Homo sapiens: one gene and its partner. The protein of the gene in region 1 interacts with the protein of each later gene in a biochemical or structural test. Each region holds a gene or a part of one and is shown on either strand. Other genes may lie near its edges.

Region 1 (4,677 bases):
ATCTCTACTAAAAATACAAAAATTAGCCGGGCGTAGTGGCGGGCGTCTGTAATCCCAGCTACTCAGGAGGCTGAGGTAGGAGAATTGCTTGAACCTGGGAGGCAGAGATTGCAGTGAGCCAAGATTGCGCCACTGCACTCCAGCCTGGATGACACAGCGAGACTCTGACACACACACACAAAAAATAAAGTTTAAACTTCCCAAATCCTATGACATTGTACTATTATCATGGTAAAGAACACTGAGACAGAGGGACTAATAACTTGCCCAAGGGCACACAGCTCACAAATAGCAAAACGGTGGTCATGAGCTGAAAGACTTATGTGTTTCTGCTCTATGTGATAATATAGGGTGGTGCAAAAGTAATTTCAGTTTTTTCCACTACTTTTGAAGGCAAAAACTGCAATTACTTTTGCACCAGCCTAATATGTATGTTAGGTTCCCATTGCTGCTGTAACAAATTAATACAAACTTAGTGGCTTAAAACAACACCCGTCTATTCTCTAACAGTTCTGGGGATCAGTAGTCTGACCTCACTGGGCTCAAGATGTCAGCAGGGCTGGTTCCTTCTGGAGGCTTCAGGGGAGAATTCATTTTCTTGCCTTTTTTAGTTTCCAGAGGCTACAGCATTCCTTGGCTCATAGTCCCTTCCTGACATCTGTCCAAGCTCTTGTTTCCATCTTCACCTCTTCCACTTTGACCTTCCTACCTCCTTCTAACAAGAACTCAAGGGATTACACTGGGGCTACCTGGATCATCTGGAATAATCTCCCCGTCTCCAGATCCTTAACTTAATCACATCTCTAAAGTACCTTTTACCATGTAAGGTAACATATTCCCAGGTTCCAGGGTTTAGGGCATGACTATCTTGAGGGACCACTATTCAGCCTACCACAGCATGTTCACATTTCAATAACTGGACTGGATTTCTGGGTTTTTTTCCAGAAAAGTCATAGCCTGAGTTTTTATGAAAAAGTAAAAAGTATACTATGGTCTCTTGGCTTTTTGTAGGGTAGATGATAGAAAGATGGAACAATAGATCAGAAATAATGAAGATGATGATGATGATAGCCAACATTTGCAGAGTGTTCAGCTTCCAAGTAGTTTACAGGCATTACTTCTTTTAGCCGTCAGGCAATAGGATCAGGTAGGGAGGCGTGAGAACTATTCCCATTTTACAGATGAGAAAACTGAGGCATAGAGAGGTGACATAGTCACATGGCCAAGGTCTCACGGGTGGATGTGGTAGAGCCTGGATGAGAGCCCAGGATGCCTGGCTCCCACAGCCCACTCAGACCCTCGGGCACTTCTGCCCAGGTGTCAGGACGGTGCCAGCGGTAGCCTTACAGGGTGTCAGAGTGCTAATGCAAGGTGGCAGGCCTCCAAGATGCCATTCTGAGGGGTTTCTCTTTGGTCAATTCAGGAAGCTACTCTTTGTCCGTGCGAGACTACGACCCTCGGCAGGGAGATACCGTGAAACATTACAAGATCCGGACCCTGGACAACGGGGGCTTCTACATATCCCCCCGAAGCACCTTCAGCACTCTGCAGGAGCTGGTGGACCACTACAAGAGTGAGTCCCACCCCAGGGGTGACATCCCCACCACGATGGGCCCACAGACTCCTAGTCACGGATGCACTGTGGCCCCTGAGACCTGCTGTGTCCTTCTTGGCCATCCCCTAGACAGATAGTTGCTTTGGATGCTTCTGAAGGCTTAGGACTGTTGAGCAGGAGGGTGAGGTGGCCAAGATGTAGAGGTGGCACCCCGTCACACTCTGCTTGCTTGGGAATGTCTCTGATGGTGGCAACCAGGTGGAACACTGGAGAGATCCAGTGGACCAGGTAGGGCGGCCTCCAAGGAGCAACCTCTGGCTGGCTCGGTGCTTGTTGCTCTCAATTGACCAGGGACTCTGTTCCAGAGGGGAACGACGGGCTCTGCCAGAAACTGTCGGTGCCCTGCATGTCTTCCAAGCCCCAGAAGCCTTGGGAGAAAGATGCCTGGGAGATCCCTCGGGAATCCCTCAAGCTGGAGAAGAAACTTGGAGCTGGGCAGTTTGGGGAAGTCTGGATGGGTAAGGACCCAGGGCCACAGCCCACAGGGCCAGAGGGTGGAGGGGAGAGGGAGGCCACTTGCTTCCAGGAACACCTTATGGCAAAGCGGGAATGCTACCCAAGGCAGAGGGGGAGATTTAAATAATAGCCATAAAGAAGCAGTTCCCTGATAGCAAACCAAATTGTCTTGCTGTGCAAACACTGATTTGCCTTTGAGACCAGTCCTGTAGTGGTCAAAAACTTCCTTCTGGGAAGCAGGTGTCATGGATGAGGAATCCCTCCCTCATACGGAGTGGGGACTGCCTAACAGTTTGGGATTGAGATAACCAGAGACCTTTTCAGATGATGAAAATTAAGAATGGGGAAATGCAGCTTGGAGATTTCCAGGCAACTGATGAACAGGTTATTCTGAGCACCTGCTGTGTGCCCAGCACTGTTAGGGTCTTGTGGGAAAATCAGAAAGGCACATCTCACACCTGCTGATTTTCCCCAAGAACTTAAGAACAACACTGCCTGCTTTGCAGGGCTGTGGGGTAGATGCAGTGCCAGCCCAGTGTGGGGCAGCCTGCTGTGTTAATACGTTCCAAATGGGAGCGTTCCAAATGGGAGCGAAGACAACTTACAGGGATGCAAACAACTCAGCCAGATAAAATAAGTTTAAAATCCATGTATTTCGACTGTATTTATTGCGATTCTGCTGCATGCAAGGCCGGGCACAGTGGCTCACGCCTGTAATCCCAGCACTTTGGGAGGCCGAGGCAAGTGGATCAATCAAGGTCAGCAGTTCGAGAAAAACCTGGATAGTATAGTGAAATCCCGTCTCTACGAAAAAATACAACAATTAGCCAGGCGTGGTGGTGGGAGCCTGTAATCCCACCTACTCGGGAGGCTAAGGCAGGAGAATCGTTTGAACCCAGGAGGTGGAAGTTGCAGGGAACCGAGATCGCACCACTGCACTCCAGCCTGGGAGACAGAGTGAGACTCTGTCTAAAAAATAATAATAAAATTAAAAAGAATTTGACAAAAAAGAAAATATGGAGAGGAAGGTAAGACAGATCTGAGTGGTGAGATTTGAAAGCCAAAAATATCATATAAGACGCTAGACTCCTACTACAGGAAGCCCACGGTTCTGGATTGGAGCTTCCTGGAAGCCAAGGCAAAATGGAAACCCAAGCAATTATAAAATTGACAAGACCCACCAAATGAAGCAGGGTGGGGTGAGGGGAGGGAACAGCATGTGCCAAATCCCTGTGGTGGGAGGTGAGTTGGGTGCTTGAGGGACTGAGTGACCTGCAGGGTGACTGGCACATAAAAGGCAAGGGGAGTTTAGTGGCTGATGAGGCTAGAGGGGTGGACGAGGCTGGGTCATGTAGGGCCTGGGGGTCATAGTAAGTCTGGCATTTATTTAAGAGCAGTGTTAAGATTAAAGTGGGCGGTGTATGTGTGTGACATAACCTGAGTAGTGTTTTAAAGCTATTTTTATTTGTTTGGGTTTTTTGTTTGTTTGTTTGTTTGAGACAGAGTCTCGCTCTGTCACCCAGGCTGGAGTGCAGTGGCTCAATCTTGGCTCACTGCAAGCTCCGTCTCCTGGGTTCACACCATTCTCCTGCCTCAGCCTCCCCAGTAGCTGGGACTACAGGCGCCCACAACTGCGCCTGGCTAATTTTTTGTATTTTTAGTAGAGACGGGGTTTCACCGTGTTAGCCAGGATGGTCTCGATCTCCTGACCTTGTGATCCGCCCACCTCGGCCCCCCAAAGTGCTGAGATTACAGGCGTGAGCCACTTAGAGCTATTTTTAAATCCTTGCAACAGCACTTCAAAGGCAAAGCTTACCATTTCCACTTTACAGATGAGGAAGCTGAGGAAGCCACGGCTCAGAGACGTTAAGCCACTTGCCCTAGTGTGCACAGCTGGGAAGTGGTGAACCCGCCTTTCAACCCACAGTTGTCTGAGGCCTAAGCCCATGATTTCGCTTCCCTCTCTGAGAGTTGAGATGAGCAGGAAAGACTTTCTGGAGGAGGCGGGTCTGCAGCTGGGCCTTCTAGGGTGGTACGGGAGACCAGTGGGCTCTGACCACCTTCCCTGCTCTCTATCCCCCTCCAGCCACCTACAACAAGCACACCAAGGTGGCAGTGAAGACGATGAAGCCAGGGAGCATGTCGGTGGAGGCCTTCCTGGCAGAGGCCAACGTGATGAAAACTCTGCAGCATGACAAGCTGGTCAAACTTCATGCGGTGGTCACCAAGGAGCCCATCTACATCATCACGGAGTTCATGGCCAAAGGTGCTGCGTGCTGGGGCTGGGGGTGCAGGCTGTGGCCTATACTGGTCAATTGCGGGCCCAAGGGTGGCTTGGACATGGTTCTTGCCCTTGAGATGGCCCCAATCTGGCCAGGAGCTCTTCCAACAAGTACTCATTGAGAATCTAATGTGGAACAATCCAGCCCTCCTGGTTAGTGGGGTGAAATCATGTTAAGGGGTCACCAAGGGGAAGGGAGAACAAGGGGCTACCAGGAGAAGGGAATGGGGCCAGAATACTCCTGGGCAATGGGAGAAGGGGCTTATGGTTCACAGTGAGCCTTAGAGGCCAGGGTGTGGCATGGGTGGTGGGGGTGCCACTCTCC
Region 2 (4,677 bases), on another chromosome or scaffold:
TTTTTTTTTTTTTTGAAAGTCCCATTTGCCTTTGAAATCCCGGGTAGAGTGAGTGAGTGGGGAGGGGAAACGGCTCCTGGGGCTCGAGGACAGCTCAGGTCCCCTCCCTGGGGCACTTTGGGAGCCCACAAAAATGGAGCACAGCTTCCCTCAGGACCTGCCTAGTGCTGTTTCCGGACGCCCTGTTCTAGAAACATCTGGCTGCACCTGCAGCCACTGTAGCTGACAGGAGGGTTTGCTTCTCTGCTGGCCCTTGGATGCTGCCAGGGTCTGGTGCCCAACTCTCTGCACAGGCAGAGGCCGCAGAGGGGAGAGGGCGGGAGGGCGAAGGCCAGCCAGGCTCCTCCTGAGCTGGTGGCCACGCAGGTAGCCGAACGGTTCCCTCTGGCAGTGTTGACACAGGACGGTTCCATGGCCAGGGCCTCCAAGCACCTGGCCTGGTTGTGCTCCTTGTAAAATGTCAGGAAGCCGACTGATGGGCGTGCACTGACCTCACAGCCCACAGGCAGGTGCTCGGGGCCAGGCTCTGCTCCGTCTGCACTTCCGCGTCCCCAGGAGACAAACGCTGTCCCCATCGCCATTTCCCAGGGACCCCAACACCATCTTCCGAGGAAACTCACTGGCGTCCAAGTGCATCGACGAGACCATGAAGCTGGCGGGGATGCATTACCTGCATGTCACCCTGAAGCCCGCCATCGAGGAGGTGAGCACGGGGCCGAGAGTCCTCAGCCTCACGAGGCGTGGGGAGGATTTCCCCCAACAGAGGGCACTGCACTGGGATCCAGCCAGACCACGAGCTGGGCTTGAATGTCGGCCCCTCTGGCCTCGCCACGGGGATGCTGATTCATTCACTTTTATCAAGAGGATGTTCCCTGTGTACTCCAGAACCTTCCAAATTCTCCCAAATTAAAACTATACATAAGAAAATCCACCACTCCACAAAGGAGAACATGCAAGAAAAGCCTGGCTCTTCCCAGGGAGACCTTCTTTCTCCACATGTCCTGCAGTCCCCTGTGTTTGGGCCCTGGCTGCGTGGCATGTTTGAGCTGCACGCCCAGTCCTCACCCGACCCTCTGATGCCCGCACACCCACTCCTCACCTGACCCTCTGATGCCCGCCAGGCTGTGCCCCCCGTTTATGAGCGGGTTTGTAAACAGGTTCTTTGCAAATGTGAGAAAATTGAACATAGCATTCTGGTTTGCTCTGTGGGCAAAATCATGGCAGCATTTTGAAGTAAAAATATTATTAAAGCCCTGTGAGGCCTAGTCCGTGTGGGCTGGTGCACATCACTCCTGAGAAAGCCCGATTCGTCTGATCGCGGGCGCACATCGCTCCCTGAGAGAGCCCGGCTCGTCTGATCGCGGCCATGGACTGGGCCCCGTGCCTAGTGTTTGCGCCTGACCTCTCACTTGTCCCTCCGCAGCCAGTGACACAGGCCCAGGGTTGCCCCCTTGCAGCTGAGGCTCGGGACGACACCACCCCACGGTGGCCCTGCAGTCCGGCCTCACCGTGCCCCTCCGTGCCAGTGGCCGGGTTCGGGGAGCTGTCGTGGCATTTTCTGGATGAGGCTCAGGGTCTACATCTCAGCCAGGCCTGAGACCCCTTCCACCCTCCCTGCCTGTGCCCCCAGAACCCACTCACAGAGCCCTGTCTTAAACCTCTCCCCAGATATGCCAGAGCCACAAACCCTGTGAAATCGACCCTGTGAAGTTGAAAGACGGAGAAAACCTTGAAAACAACATGGTAGGTTTTGTTCATGAACCAACCAAAGCCAGTCACCTGCTTGGGGTTTTTCAGCCGATGGCTGCCTGGAAGCTCTGACTCACCCCGTGACCCCGGTTGGGGTGGGAGCAGGACCAGGCGTGGGGATACCCGCCTCACCCGGCTGCAGTACGCTGGCTGCACTACTGGGAGGCCTCAGCCACCACCTTTGGCCTGGCCTGTGTGCCGGGCTCTGCGTCCCCTGGGGGGTCCCGGCCAGCTCTTCCTCCCCTGGAGTGATCCGGTCTGCATGCCCCAGCTCTGCCCCCCCGGAGGGTCTGCCCTGCACACCCTGCTCTGCCTCCCCTGGACAATCCTGACCAGCTCTGCCTCCGCCCCGGCTCCTCCTTCCCTTGGGCAATGGCTCCTGCCCCTCCCTTTTCCTAGGACAGGATGGCCTCCCTGCCTCCCCAGGCTGTCCCCAGAGCTGTGTACTGCGTTTTAAAACAGCAAAACTCCCTGATGTTGAACTTGCTCCAACATTTTAGTCACTTCACATGATACTTCTTGCAGAGCGTGCTGTTTCGTCATTTCTGTATGTAAATGACAGAGCTCTTTGCCTTGGGCAGGCACATTCTAGTGAACGTCCATTCCCCACTCAGTAAACGAGGTCGGGGCCGAGCCGGGGAGCCGACGTGGTGCCTGTGTAGTGATTTTCACGCGTGAATTGCCACAGCTCCCAGCACAGATTTCCAGGGAGTGGCTGTTCACACGTGTCTCACTGCCGCAGCTGCCCTGCGCCCGCCCTCAGCCCCTCCCCACGCGCCCCTCCCTGGGCGTGCCCTGGTGCTACACGCACCTGTGGGCAGCCTCGGGAGTGGGTCCCAGTGCCGTGTCCCGTTGCAGGAGAACCTACGGCAGTATGTGGACCGCGTCTTCCACGCCATCACTGAGTCTGGGGTGAGCTGCCCGACCGTCATGTGTGACATCTTCTTCTCCCTCCGGGAGGCGGCGGCCAAGCGCTTCCAGGGTGAGTGCCCTGAACACCCTCATGTTGCTGAGAAACTGCCATAGCGCTGTGCAGGGTGACTCCCACCCAGGCAGAACCCCCCGCAGCCCTGGCTAGACTAGAACTGCGGGGTCGTGAACCCCAGTTCCGATGCTGGATTTTTCCGGGGTTTGTGCCCGGGCCAGTGTTCCCTAGTTCACAACCGCAGTGGTCTCTGGGGGACCCCAGCCCTGGAGTTCACCTCCACAGTAGTCTCCAGGGGACCCCAGCCCTGGAGATCACCACCGCAGTGGTCTCTAGAGGGGCCCAGCCCTGGAGTTCACGACCACAGTGGTCTCTGGGGGGGCCGGGAAGGGTGGCCAGGCTTTGTCGGGGTGGAATGTGAATTTTCCTGATGTGGACCCCTGGGTTTTCCCAGTGGTTTCTTTTTGTGGCCGACCCTGGCAGGGCCCAGAGTGGTGTTGGGGGCTCTGCCTGCCCGTGTCTTCGAAGAGACAGGACCCCTGGGGGAGCTGCCCTTTCTTCAAACCCCCAAGCCGGAGATCCCCTAGGGACCTGGGCATCCAGCACCCAAACCCCACTTCTCAACCTTGCCGACCCTCAGGGAGGAGCTGGGTGCCTGCACCCACCCATCACCTGCGATACTCAAGACCCCGCCAGGACTCAGGCTATGTATGGGGCGCTGAGAGGCTCAGCGAGGGCCTTGCTGCCGGCTCCTCTCTTCCTTGCGTGTCCTGTGGCCTCGGGACAGCTGCAGACACCCCGGGGTGGCCATGGTCCTGCAGAGCCGTCCACGCTTCTGTGTCCCCAGGAGACAAACGCTGTCCCCACCCCTGATTCTCAGGACATCAGACAGTCAGACAGCGCCGGCCGAGGGGCCCAGGGTTCTGGGGGAGGCAGTTCCCAAGCACATCCCAGCCCCAGACCCACTTTGAACAAGGTGGAAGTGAAGAGATAAAACACATCCTCTCACCCAGATGAGCACAGACCACTGTGGAATGAGACACCAAAGGGGCTGCGCTGTGTGGTGGTGATGAGAGATGGAGAGAAACAGGGAGAGATGGAGAGAGAGGCAGAGACAGAAGGAGAGAGACAGAGAGAGACAAGGAGAGAGAGAGAGAGACAGGGAGAGACGGAGAGAGAGGCAGAGACAGACGGAGAGAGAGGCAGAGACAGACGGAGAGAGAGATAGAGACGGAGAGAGAGAGATGGAGAGAGACAGAGACAGACGGAGAGAGATGGAGAGAGAGATCGAGACGGAGAGAGAGAGAGAGAGACAGAGAGATAGAGACAGGGAGAGAGAGACGGAGAGAGAGAGACAGAGAAAGAGAGAAAAAGAGAGAGACAGAGATAGGGAGAGAGACAGGGAGAGAGACAGAGAGATGGAGAGAGAGACAGACGGAGAGAAAGAGACGGGGAGAGAGAGATGGAGTTAGGGAGAGAGACAGAGAGGGAGAGAGACAGAGAGATGGAGAGAGAGAGAGAGAGCCAGAGACAGACGGACGGAGAGAGAGAGGGGGAGAGAGAGAGAGAGACAGAGATAGGGAGAGAGACAGGGAGAGGGACAAAGAGGGAGAGAGACAAAGAGATGGAGAGAGAGAGAGACAGATGGAGGGGGGGAGAGAGCCAGAGACGGAGAGAGAGAGAGAGAGACAGAGATAGGGAGAGAGACAGAGGGACAAAGAGAGGGAGAGAGACAGAGAGATGAGAGAGAGACAAATAGAGGGAGAGAGAGAGAGACAGAGATACGGAGAGAGACAGGGAGAGAGACAAAGGGGGAGAGACAGAGAGATGGAGAGAGAGAGGGAAACAGAGAGAGGGAGAGAGGGAAACAGAGAGAGGGAGAGAGACAGACACAGGTGGAGATAGAGCCAGGACTGTGGCTGGACTTCCCTGCGGACCCTCAGGGGGCCGGGGCATGGTGTCCCCACGAGGCCATTGTGCCCGAGGAAAACGGTCACCCTGCT

What was found.
Region 2: the proteins of HCK (region 1) and RASA3 form a complex in vitro, tested with the Homo sapiens proteins (one study listed by BioGRID).

The regions. Positions count from the first base shown.
Region 1 is NC_000020.11:32,082,471-32,087,147, forward strand, and holds part of HCK (tyrosine-protein kinase HCK), read left to right. Parts: intron 1-1,423; coding exon 1,424-1,573; intron 1,574-1,920; coding exon 1,921-2,073; intron 2,074-4,157; coding exon 4,158-4,337; intron 4,338-4,677. UniProt on the Homo sapiens protein: Non-receptor tyrosine-protein kinase found in hematopoietic cells that transmits signals from cell surface receptors and plays an important role in the regulation of innate immune responses, including neutrophil, monocyte, macrophage and mast cell functions, phagocytosis, cell survival and proliferation, cell adhesion and migration.
Region 2 is NC_000013.11:114,013,263-114,017,939, reverse strand, and holds part of RASA3 (ras GTPase-activating protein 3), read left to right. Parts: intron 1-588; coding exon 589-703; intron 704-1,668; coding exon 1,669-1,743; intron 1,744-2,607; coding exon 2,608-2,731; intron 2,732-4,677.